Linked DNA regions of Homo sapiens. The protein of the gene in region 3 purifies or fractionates together with the protein of the main gene of each other region. This does not show direct contact. Each region holds a gene or a part of one and is shown on either strand. Other genes may lie near its edges. The genes, in order: ALDH4A1, ERGIC1 and RAB33A.

Evidence for each region.
Region 1: the proteins of RAB33A (region 3) and ALDH4A1 purify together in Homo sapiens (affinity purification with mass spectrometry; one large-scale study listed by BioGRID and IntAct). This does not show direct contact.
Region 2: the proteins of RAB33A (region 3) and ERGIC1 purify together in Homo sapiens (affinity purification with mass spectrometry; one large-scale study listed by BioGRID and IntAct). This does not show direct contact.

Annotation. Positions count from the first base shown.
Region 1 is NC_000001.11:18,896,000-18,899,649, forward strand, and holds part of ALDH4A1 (delta-1-pyrroline-5-carboxylate dehydrogenase, mitochondrial isoform a precursor), read right to left. Parts: intron 1,150-3,650; exon of another isoform or gene 1,072-1,149; intron 1-1,071. UniProt on the Homo sapiens protein: Irreversible conversion of delta-1-pyrroline-5-carboxylate (P5C), derived either from proline or ornithine, to glutamate. This is a necessary step in the pathway interconnecting the urea and tricarboxylic acid cycles.
Region 2 is NC_000005.10:172,837,238-172,840,887, forward strand, and holds part of ERGIC1 (endoplasmic reticulum-Golgi intermediate compartment protein 1), read left to right. Parts: intron 1-112; exon of another isoform or gene 113-336; intron 337-2,961; exon of another isoform or gene 2,962-3,633; intron 3,634-3,650. UniProt on the Homo sapiens protein: Possible role in transport between endoplasmic reticulum and Golgi.
Region 3 is NC_000023.11:130,178,448-130,182,097, reverse strand, and holds part of RAB33A (ras-related protein Rab-33A), read right to left. Parts: intron 1-3,650.

The DNA.
Region 1 (3,650 bases), on a different chromosome or scaffold from region 3:
TCACCCTGCCCCATTTGGTGCAATCCGGTCACCCCGGTCTCTTCTGGGGTCCTCTCTGCTTGAGATGTCCTCCACTGGTCCAACCTCACATAGCCGGAATGGGGCTCCTATCGGATTCCTCTCATAGCTCTAGACTTTTCTGGAAGCACTAGTGAAAACCCTATTATAGAGCTCTGACTGACCATCTGTGTGCCCGCCAGGCCACAGGCTCCACACAGCCAGCCCGTACCCATCCCATTCACCACCAGGCACCCCAAGCCTAACACACTGACTGGCCACAGTAAGCACCTGAGAAATACAATCAATGCATGAGTGTCAGAGCTGACACCAGGCCCCCAGGACTGGACTCCAAGGCCAGTGCTCTTCTGCTATCACCTGGGGCTGGACACTGGCCCCTTGGGTTCCCCAGTGGCTAAGGTGAGGGGTGGCCAAGGACAAGGAGAGGAGAAATAGAAAGGAAATTATCTTTGCTTCATGCAGCCTCCTGACTTTTCCAGCCATTATCTGGAGCCTGATAAGGCTAATCCTCCCTATCACCGACATAAAGGCAACACTAGGTGAGCAGAGAAAGTGCAGGGCCCAGGGCGGGGCCTGGAGGGAAAGAAAGGCCCAGCCAGGCAAAGTGGCTCACACCTGTAATCCCAACACTTTGGGAGGCTGAGGAGGGTGGATCACTTGAGGTCAGGAGTTTGAGACCAGCCTGGCCAACATGGTGAAACCCCGTCTCTACTAAAAATACAAAAATTAGCTGGACATGGTGGCACATGCCTGTAATCCCATCTACTTGGGAGGCTGAGGAAGAGGAATTGCTTGTACCCGGGAAGAAGAGGTTGGAGTGAGCCAAAATCGTGCCACTGCACTCCAGCCTGGGCAACAGAGTGAGACGATGTCTCAAAAAAAAAAAAAAGAAAGAAAGACCCAATGCCAGGGATGAGCTGCTTCAGCCACTGCCCAGCAAACATCAGGCAACATTTGTCAAGCACTTGCCACCACATGCCAAGCATTAACCTAAGTGAGACAGGATCATCTCACTGAATCCACCACATAAGCGTATGAGGAACGCATGACAAGTTGAGCATCCCTGATCCAAAAATCCAAAATCCGAAATGTTCCAAAATCTGAAACTTTTTGAGTGTCAACGTGACGCTCAAAGGAAATGCTCATTGGAGCATTTTGGACTTTGGAACTTGGGAGTAGGGATGCTCAACTTGTTCGGCAAATTCTCCAAAATCCAAGCAAGTCCAATATACAAAACACTTCCGGCCAGGCGCAGTGGCTCATGCCTATAATCCCAGCGCTTTGGGAGGCGGAAGAGGGCGGATCACTTGAGGTCAGGAGTTCTAGACCAGCCTGGCCAACATGGCAAAACCCCATCTCTACTAAAAGTACAAAAATTAGCTGGACGTGGTGGCGTGTGCCTGTAGTCTCAGCTACTTAGGAGGCTGAGGTAGGAGGATGGCTTGAGCCCAGGAGGTGAAGGTTGCAGTGAGCCAAGATCTGGCCACTATACTCCAGCCTGGGAGGTAGAGCGAGACTCCGTCTCAAAAAAACAAAAACCCAAAAAACGAAACACTCTGTTCTGAAGCATTTCAGATGAGGGACACTCGACCGTAGAATGATCTGTTTACGGATGAGGTTCAGAGTTACTCACTCCTGGCTCAGGGTCACAGCTCATGAGTGACAGAGCAGGATTTGACCCCAGCTGTTCCTTACTCAGGAGACTTACAGTATGGCTGAAGCACCTGGAACATCTCAGAGGCCCATGGTCAGGTGGGGCTGATGGGACACGTTCATCCTCCTCACCATACAGCTAGAACCTCATTTCCACCTGAGGAAAGCCGCCGCCCCAAGGTGGGCAGTGACTTGCCCAAGGTCACTCAGCTGTCCACTGGCACAGCAGCTCAGCCCAGGGACTCTTCACTCCATGCCATGACCTCTGCCAGGAAAGGGAAGGTTTGGGGATTAAGGAGGCTGCAAGAAAGGGAGAAGTCTTTTCCATCCCCTGAGGTGAGCAGGGTCAAAACCCTAACAGAAGGTCGGACGCAGTGGCTCACGCCTATAATCCCAGCACTTTGGGAGGCTGAGGCAGGAGGATCACTTCAGCCCAGGAGGTTGAGATCATCCTGGCCAACATGGTGAAACCCCGTCTCTACGAAAAAAAAAAAATACAAAAATTAGCTGGGTATGGTGATGTGCGCCTGTAGTTCCAGCTACTTGGGAGGCTGAGGTGGGAGGATGACTGAGCCCAGGAGGTTGAGGCTGTAGTGAGCTGAGATCATGACACTGTACTCCAGCCTGGACAACAGAGTGAGACTCTGTCTCCAAAACAAACAAACAAACAAACCAACAATAATAACAGAAGAGGTTTGGCATCTGGGGTACTTAATTGGAATAAACAGAAGAGACCGAGGACATCTGAGTTCCATACCTCCCCTCCTGCCACCATCCTTCACTGCTGGGCCCTGCTGTCTTGATATTCCTGATCGAAGATGATCACTCCAGGAAGCCCATTGGTGGGAGAGGGGGATCATCATAACCACAGCAGCACTTACTGAGCATTTCAGGTGCTGGGCACTCCAAAGTGCTTTCCATGTATGAGACCATTTAACACGCAGGACAATCCTATGAGGTGACTACTACTGTCATCTTTATTTTCCATATGAGAACATAAGGGAGCCCAGAGAGGGTGAGTAACCTGCCCGGGGCCACAGAGCTGCCAAGAGTTGGAGCCAGGATCCAAGCCATGCTGTGTTCTGGACCATCTCAACAGCAACCGTTCAACGCCTACTGTGTGCCGGGCCAGATGCAGGGCACAGGAGGCAGGCTGCTCCCAGGGGTGCCACTGCCAAGCACTGCCTCAATGGCGCTTTCACTACTTTAGAAGTGTGATGATAATCACAGGTTTTAATTATTCTCCAACTCAAATACTCACAGAGCACGCATTCGGTACCAGCATCCAGGAAACCACTGATCACATCACCGCTAATCCTTGCAGCCACCTGCTACGTGGCTGTTAATACAATCATCCCCATTTTGCAGACGAGGATACTGAAGGGACAGAAGCTGCCTTGCCAAGGCCACAAAGCACTGGATGGGCTCACCGAGGTGGCCAGCAGGACATTCCAGGCCAAAGGCACTGCCCCAGCCACTGGTTGGAGGAGTTCAAGAGCAGAGAATGTCTAAGGAATGGTGGGAAATGCCAGCCCTCGACCCAGGGCAAGCTGTGCCCATCCAAGGGCTGGGCAGACTAGGAAAAGCATTGTGTGCTTTTGATATTTTGAAAATTAAACCATCAGGTAGCCTGAGAAGAGTCCAAAACCACCCAGGATCACTGCAGGGGACACGGTAGTAACCAATTCCGGCCCACAAGCCCCCTGATGTCAGACGGGCTGAGCTGGAGTCATGTCTGGGCTTGGCACAAGAAATAAGGAACAGAAGTGAACTCTTATAAGCCTACTACATGCCTGGGCTGGCTATTAATCTGTATCCTGCCTGTTTCCAAAGAGAACTGAGGATACTGATGGTAAAGTTGATTGAGAAAAAAACAGGAAGTCAGGGTTAAAGGAGGAAAGAGACAGTCAGTTGGGAGGCCTGGTGTTCACCAGCTCAAGGCCTCGGACAAGTTTTCCTTAATTTCCATGGGCCTCAGT
Region 2 (3,650 bases), on a different chromosome or scaffold from region 3:
AGTTCTGTGTTTTCCTGTCTGTGAAATGGGAATGAGGAGAGTACTCACCGAAGTAGAACAGTTGAGGGATGAGGCAGTGCGGAAAGCATTTAGACACAGAGTAAGCGCCTCATCCATTTTGGCCGCCATATTTATTTGTGTCATTTTATTTAAGCACCCATCATCTCCTAACACATTATATAATTCACTTAATTATCATGCTGCTTCTCTCTCCCTCCCATTAGTACATGAGCTCCTGAGGGCAAGAAGTTTTTATCAGGCTTCTTCAAGGTTGCATCTCCAGCACCTAGAACTGTGCTTGAGCCAAACTCGATCCTTGGAGATGCCTCTTGAAATCTGTCAAGGAAGCCATAGACATGACGTGACTTGATATGCCAGCTTCAGTGGGCAGATTTTCAGCCATTAGTGGAGAAATCTCCCCTCTCCACCCTTGAATCTGCCGTTCCTAGGTTGTTTTTGGGGTTAAGGAAGGAGGCAGAACGCAGGGGAGGGAGGCTGAGCTTTCAATGATTTATTGTGTTTGCTTTGCTCTTGTTAAATTGTTTCACTAATGGCTGGCTGTTGCAGTTGTGGAACTAGCCTTGTGACCCACATCCGTGTGTGTTGTTTCGAGTTCCGGCTGGCCTGGGGCCAGTAGCACCTGCTGCCTTCTGCACACCAGCCCAGGGTGGGTGAGGAGGGAAGATAACAGCATCCGGAAGCCCTGTGCCCAGGCCCAGTGGTGCCTGAGCACTGCCTTCCGGGAGGTGCAGGTGGCTGCTGTCCCACAGTGACAGCCCCCATGTTGAAAACCCAAGGCCTCGGGGGTGCCGCTGCACTGGCACTGACCAGATGTGCTCTGGGACCATTGACTTCCCCTCTCGGAGCCTCCATTTCTTCATTTTAAGGAGGGGATGTAAACTTCGCTGCCTCACCTGGTAGAGTAGATGTAGGGGCAAGTGTGATCAATGCACACTTGCAGGATCAATGTGCAATGCAACTTGCAATGCAGGATGAGGCCCATAATTTGTGGGGCCCAGTGCAAAATGAAAATGTGGAGTCCCTTGTTGAAAAAGTATTAAGAATTTCAGGACGGCAGCAGCAGCGCATTCAGCCAAGCATGGACCCCCCTCTGAGTGTGTGACCCTGTGTGCCTGCACAGGTCATGCGGCCCTGATGGGGCTGGCCCTGCTGCAGGGCCTTGGTTTGGCCTCTACCATTTTTCACTCTGGCCTTCTGAGTGGTCTTTCTCCCTCCAGGATACCCCAGACCTCCTCAGGACTCCCTAGTGAGCTTTCCAAAGTTGATCTGATATTTTCATGTCCTGATTTCAACCTTCAAATGGGTCTCATTGCTCTAAGGATCCAGTGTGAATTCCTTTTTAAAAAAAAATTATATAGAGATGGGGTCTTGCTATGTTGGCCAGGTTGTTCTTGAACTCCTGGCCTCAAGTCATCCTCCTTCCTTGGCCTCCCAAAGTGCTAAGATCACAGGCATGAGCCACTGCACCTGGCCCAGTCTTAATTCCTTAGGCCCCAATAGGGAATGGGACCCTGGTAGCCCCATCAGTTCCTACACCAAGCTAAGCCTCAGCCACCACAGGGACCTCTGAGCACAGAGTTAACATTCAGCAGAGAGTAGCTAACATGAATGCCTGTATTTCTACCCTGCTGTTTCTTCCAGAAAGAATTCCAAGGAAGCTGACAAGAACATATACTTTACAGCAAGTTTTAAAAAATATAAAATGAGCGCTGTGGCTCATGCCTGTAATCCCAGCACTTTGGGAGGCTGAGGTGGGCGGATTACCTGAGGTCAGGAGTTTGAGACCAGCCTGGCCAACATGGTGAAACCCCGTCTCTAATAAAAATACAAAAATCAGCCGGGCTTGATGGTACATACCTGTAATCCCAGCTCCTCGGGAGGCTGAGGCAGGAGAATTGCTTGAGCCCGGGAGACGGAGGTTGCAGTGAACTGAGATCTTGCCACTGTACTCCAGCCTGGCCAACAGAGCGAGACTCTGTCTCAAAAAAAAAAAAAAAAAAAAGTATATATATATGGGCCAGGTGTGGTAGCTCACACCTGTAATCCCAGTACTTTGGGAGGCCAAAGTGGGAGGATTGCTTGAGGATTGCAGGAGTTCAAGACCAAGCTGGTCAACATAGCAAGACCCCAGACCCCATCTCTATGGGGAAAAAAAAATGGCCAGGTGTGGTGATGTGCGTCTGTGGTCCCAGCTTCTTGGGAGGCTGAGGTGGAAGGATCTCTTGAGCCCAGGAGGTGGAGGCTTCAGTGAGCCATGTTCATGCCATTGCATTCCACACTGGGTAACAGAGCAAGACCCTATCTCAAAACACACACACACATACACACACACACACATACACACACATACACATACACATATAGCCTTAAAAATCAGGGCAAAAAGAAAATAAAAATTAGACCAGAGAGAAAATTATGTGAAAAGGCCAGTATTTCGGGTTTATTGAACATTTGCTAGTGCCAGGCACTGTTGTAAGGATCTTACTGTATCAGCCCCTTTAATTCTCCACAGTCCTACAAGGGAGGTGCTGTTGTTACCCCACTTTACAGGTGAGCCAGTGGAGGTGCCACAGAGTTCGGAAACACGGTCGTTCCCGTTCCTGGAGCTGGGATTGGAACACTGCCATTTGGCACCAGAGCTCCACTGTGTCCTGTAGGCTCATCTCTAAAGCTTTCTCTTTTCCATTCACTAAATTCAGAGAGAACTGAGAACTCTTCTAATTGGATTCATTGGGTTTCTCTTCACTAATCCTCACCCAACAGTGCTCATTAAGAAGCTTAAAGCCATCAACTTTTTTCCCCCTAGCCTCATGTAGCGTGATACCTGATTCTGAAATGGTCTTTAAAGACCCTCACACCAGCTAATGGCATCACCCTCGAGGGGCTCAGTTTTCCCACGCTGACCAGTGGGGGTTTTCCAGCTTAGAGCATCATGTTTACCTGCTCGCGGGGACATGGAATGAGATGGAATGTCCTCTCCTCCCAAGGCCGTTTGGATTCCTGACTGTGGTGCTGTAGTAGCAGGAGACAGGGCTTTAGCCAGCTGTGTCCTGGTTAAGTTACATTCCCCATCTGGTAATCCTTTCGTATTTTATTTGGAGTTACTCCTAGCCAGTTTTTGTCAGGCGTGGGAGAGACAGGCAGGGTGTGAAGAGGGTATTTGGGGTGAGGCTTACCCGGTACATCTAAATCAGTGAGCCTCAACCCTGGCTGTATATTAAAGTCTCTCATGTGATTCTAATGCACAGCCAAGACGGAGGAGAAGTGCTCTGAATTGGGAGAAGCAATAGCAAGCAGGGCTGAGAGCAGCAGGGGAGCCAGGTCGGGTGGCGGTGGAGAGCCTTGCCTCGGGAGGCTGGGGCGTGGAGTTCCCGTCCCACCCATCACTCCTGCATGACCTTCGGCAACTCTGTTACCCCACCAGTGAAGTGGACAGTAAGGGGCCGTAACTTTCTACTAATAACCTTGCTCTTCAAAGTGCAGTCCCAGATGCCAGCTTCAGCAGCACCTTGGAGCTTGTTGGAAGTGGAGAATCTCAGTGCCCACCTGGAATCTGAATTTGTATTTTAACAAGATCCCCAGGTGATTCATGTATTCATTAAAATGTATAAAGCCCTGGTCTGTATGAT
Region 3 (3,650 bases):
CTCTTGGCCTCAAGCAATCCTCCTGCCTCGGCCTCAAAATGTGCTGGGATTACAGGCATGAGCCACTAGCCTGAATAACTTTTTAAAGAAAACAAAGTTAGTATTAAAATCTCACCTTCAAGCCCTATTTATTTATTTATTTATTATTTTGAGATGAGAGTCTTGTTCTGTCGCCCAGGCTGGAGTGCAGTGGTGTGATCTCAGCTCACTGCAACCTCCACATCCTGGGTTCAAGAGATTCTACCACTTCAGCCTTCTGAGGAGCTGGGATTACAGTCGTGCGCCACCATGCCCAGCTAATTTTTGTATTTTTAGTAGAGATGGGGTTTCACCATGTTGGCCAGGCTAGTCTTGAATTCCTGACCTCAAATGATCGAGCCTCCCAAAGTGCTGGGATTACAGGCGTGAGCCACCATGCCCAGCCTCCAATTTATTTTTAAGTTCACTTTTTGGTTATGTAAAAGGAACTTAATTCACTGGATTTTTCTTCTGTATCTCAGCTTTTGGGATAAAGGCCAAATTATGAAGAAAAAGCTGCTATCTGTAACATATGCAAAGACATAACTCCCAGGAGATATACATTCAGCCCAATCTATTTCCCTTTATATATCCAACGTCTTGGACAAGGGAGATTCATGCTCAGAATGATGGTCCCAAGGCCCTATACAATTCTCAGTTATCAAAGAAAATTTGATTATGGCCACTAATTGACTGCTATGGCTCTTAAAACGAAGTATAGCCTTTATTTGGAGTTAGCAGTCAGTAAGTATAATCTAGTAAATATAATTGAATCTGTCGGCTGAGTGAAGATTTTACAGGGCCCTAGAGTCATCATTCCGAATATCAGTTTTCATTGTCCAGGCTCCCCGTCATCTCCCTCTATTGACACAGCTTCCAAGTTCCTCTGGCAAGACCTTCAGATTGAACCCTTCTTCTATTCTGATTTCTGTGTCCCTCGGCCCTCGGCCAGCCTCTCCTCTCCTCACTCCTGGACTAGAGCAAAGTATTTTGGATTGTGGATGTTTCCATTGCAGGGTCTCCTGAACACTGCTCGCTTGCTTGCTTTTTTTTTTTTTTTTTTTTTTTTTTTGAGATGGACTGTTGCTCTGTTGCCCAGGCTGGAGTGCAGTGGTGCAATCTCAGCTCACTGCAACCTCCACCTCCCAGGTTCAAGCGATTCTCCTGCCTCAGCCTCCCAAGTAGCTGGGATAACAGGCGTGTGCCACTGCGCCTGGCTAATTTTTGTATTTTTAGTAGAGATGGGGTTTTGCCGTGTTGGCCAGGCTGGTCTCAAACTCCTGACCTTAGGTAACAAAAAAGTGAACTTAAAAATAAATTGGAGGCCAGGGCGCAGTGGCTCACGCCTGTAATCCCAGCATTTTGGGAGGCTGAGGCGGGCGGATCACGAGATCAGGAGATCGAGACCATACTGGCTAACACAGTTAAACCCCGTCTCTACCAAAAAATATAAAAAAATTAGCTGGGTGTGGTGGCAGGTGCCTGTAGTCCCAGCTACTCGGGAGGCTGAGGCCAGAGAATGGCATGAGCCCGGAAGACGGAGCTTGCAGTGAGCCGAGATGGTGCCACAGCACTCCAGCCTGGGCAACAGAGCTAAACTCCATCTCAAAATAAAAAATAAATAAATAAAAATAAATTGGAGTCTGAGTATAGTGGCTCACTCCTGTAATCCCAGCATGTTGGGAGGCCCAATCACTGCCGATCCACCTGCCTCAGCCCCTGAAAGTGCTGGGATTACAGGCGTGAGCCCCAGTGCCCGATCTCTGAATACTGGCTTTCTGACTAGCTTTAGTCAATCCCTGCTTGTATCAGCATGCCATTCACCTCTTCAGGAAACGACTGCAGCCCTCTACTGTATGTGGCATCACATGGATTCCACATGTGGAATTCTGTCTGCCATAATTTGACCCTTCCCAACCTGGTTTCAAACTACTCAGCTACACCTGGTTGATTCCCTCCTCTGTACTTTGGGTCATGCTAGTCCACTCCTCCCCTATAGAATCAGCTGCCCCCTCATTGCCCTATCCAAATCTCACCCATTCTTCAAGGTTAAGCTCACGCCTCAGGCTTCTTCCTCAAACCTTCGCCAACTTCCCTTCAATTCTCTTTTCTTAGGAATCTCTGTTGCACTTTGAGTCTGCATCATACCATTTTGAATAGATTTATGTTTTCTAATTGTCTCGTCAGTGCTCTTGGCATCTCTCCAGCAAGACTGTAAGCAGTCTTTTTCTGCATCAGACCACACTCGTCACTGAGGTTGTCATCATCATCATTATCAGCAGCAGACACATTATCAAAAGGCAGTGATGGCCTGAACCACTAAAACTACAAGCAGTCTGGCATCCTAGATATGTGCCAAGGGGATTTCAGAGAGAACGTCTGACTGTGATCACACAGAAAAAACATAAGTCCTCAAAGACTGATTTGCTTCTGCAAGCAAGAGACAGAAAATATTTTCATTTCTTCCACCTCTCCGTGGTGTTCCGAACAGGAAGAAAGGGAGAGCAGACCACAGGAGGAATGGAGGTCAGTAGGAAGACAGCAGGCATAGCCCAGGAATATCATTACCACTTGGCTCCTGATCCCCACTCCCCCCACCCCCCAGGAGTCTTCACTCTTGCCTTTTGCCTCTGAAGAAGTCTGAATCCCTACCAGCCCTCAGGCATGTGGCAGATGCTTTAACACCATGAGCTCAGGACTCTAAAAATACCTGCCACTAGCAGGAACACGGGTGGGAGTGTGTGAGGTGTTTGAGGCTGAGTGAGGTTGGCCATTTGGCTTTTCTTTGGCTTCATAATTGCGTATGCCGCCCAAATTGCCGGAACTGCCAGGAGGGCCCTCTCTGCTGGAGACCTCCTCTGTCTTTCCAACACTATTGGGAGCCTTGAAGCTTTTATTTGGAGGCTCCGAATTTAAACTGCAGGCACTGCTCCCTTCCAGCTCTTTGTAAACCCCACCCTGAGTTCTTTGCAGACGTGTCTGTCGTGAGAGGGGAGCCAGGAAGCAGGCTGCTCGCAGCAGAAAATAGAAGAACCAGTGGTGTGGCCTCAGAACCATCAGAAAGGAAGATCACAGCAGGCAGGCTCCCTAAACACATGAAATGATCTCATTAAAAAAAAAAAAAAAATCGCCGGGCGCGGTGGCTCACGCCTGTAATCCCAGCACTTTGGGAGGCCGAGGCAGGTGGATCACAAGGTCAGGAGATCGAGACCATCCTGGCTAACGCGGTGAAACCCTGTCTCTACTAAAAAATACAAAAAATTAGCTGGGCGTGGTGGTGGACGCCTGTAGTCCCAGCTACTCGGGAGGCTGAGACAGGAGAATGGCGTGAACCTGGGAGGCGGAGCTTGCAGTGAGTCGAGATGGCGCCACTGCACTCCAGCCTGGGCGACAGAGCAAGACTCTGTCTCAAAAATAAATAAATAAATTAATTAATTAATTTTAAAAAATCAGACATGGTCTCGCTCAGTCACCCAGGTTGGAGTGCAGTGGCATGATCTCGGCTCATTGCAGCCTCAACTTCCCCAGGCTCAGGTGATCCTCCCACCTTGGCCTCCCGAGTAGCTGGGACTACAGGCATGCACCACCACACCCGGCTAATTTTTGTATTTTTTGTAGAGATGGGGTTTCCC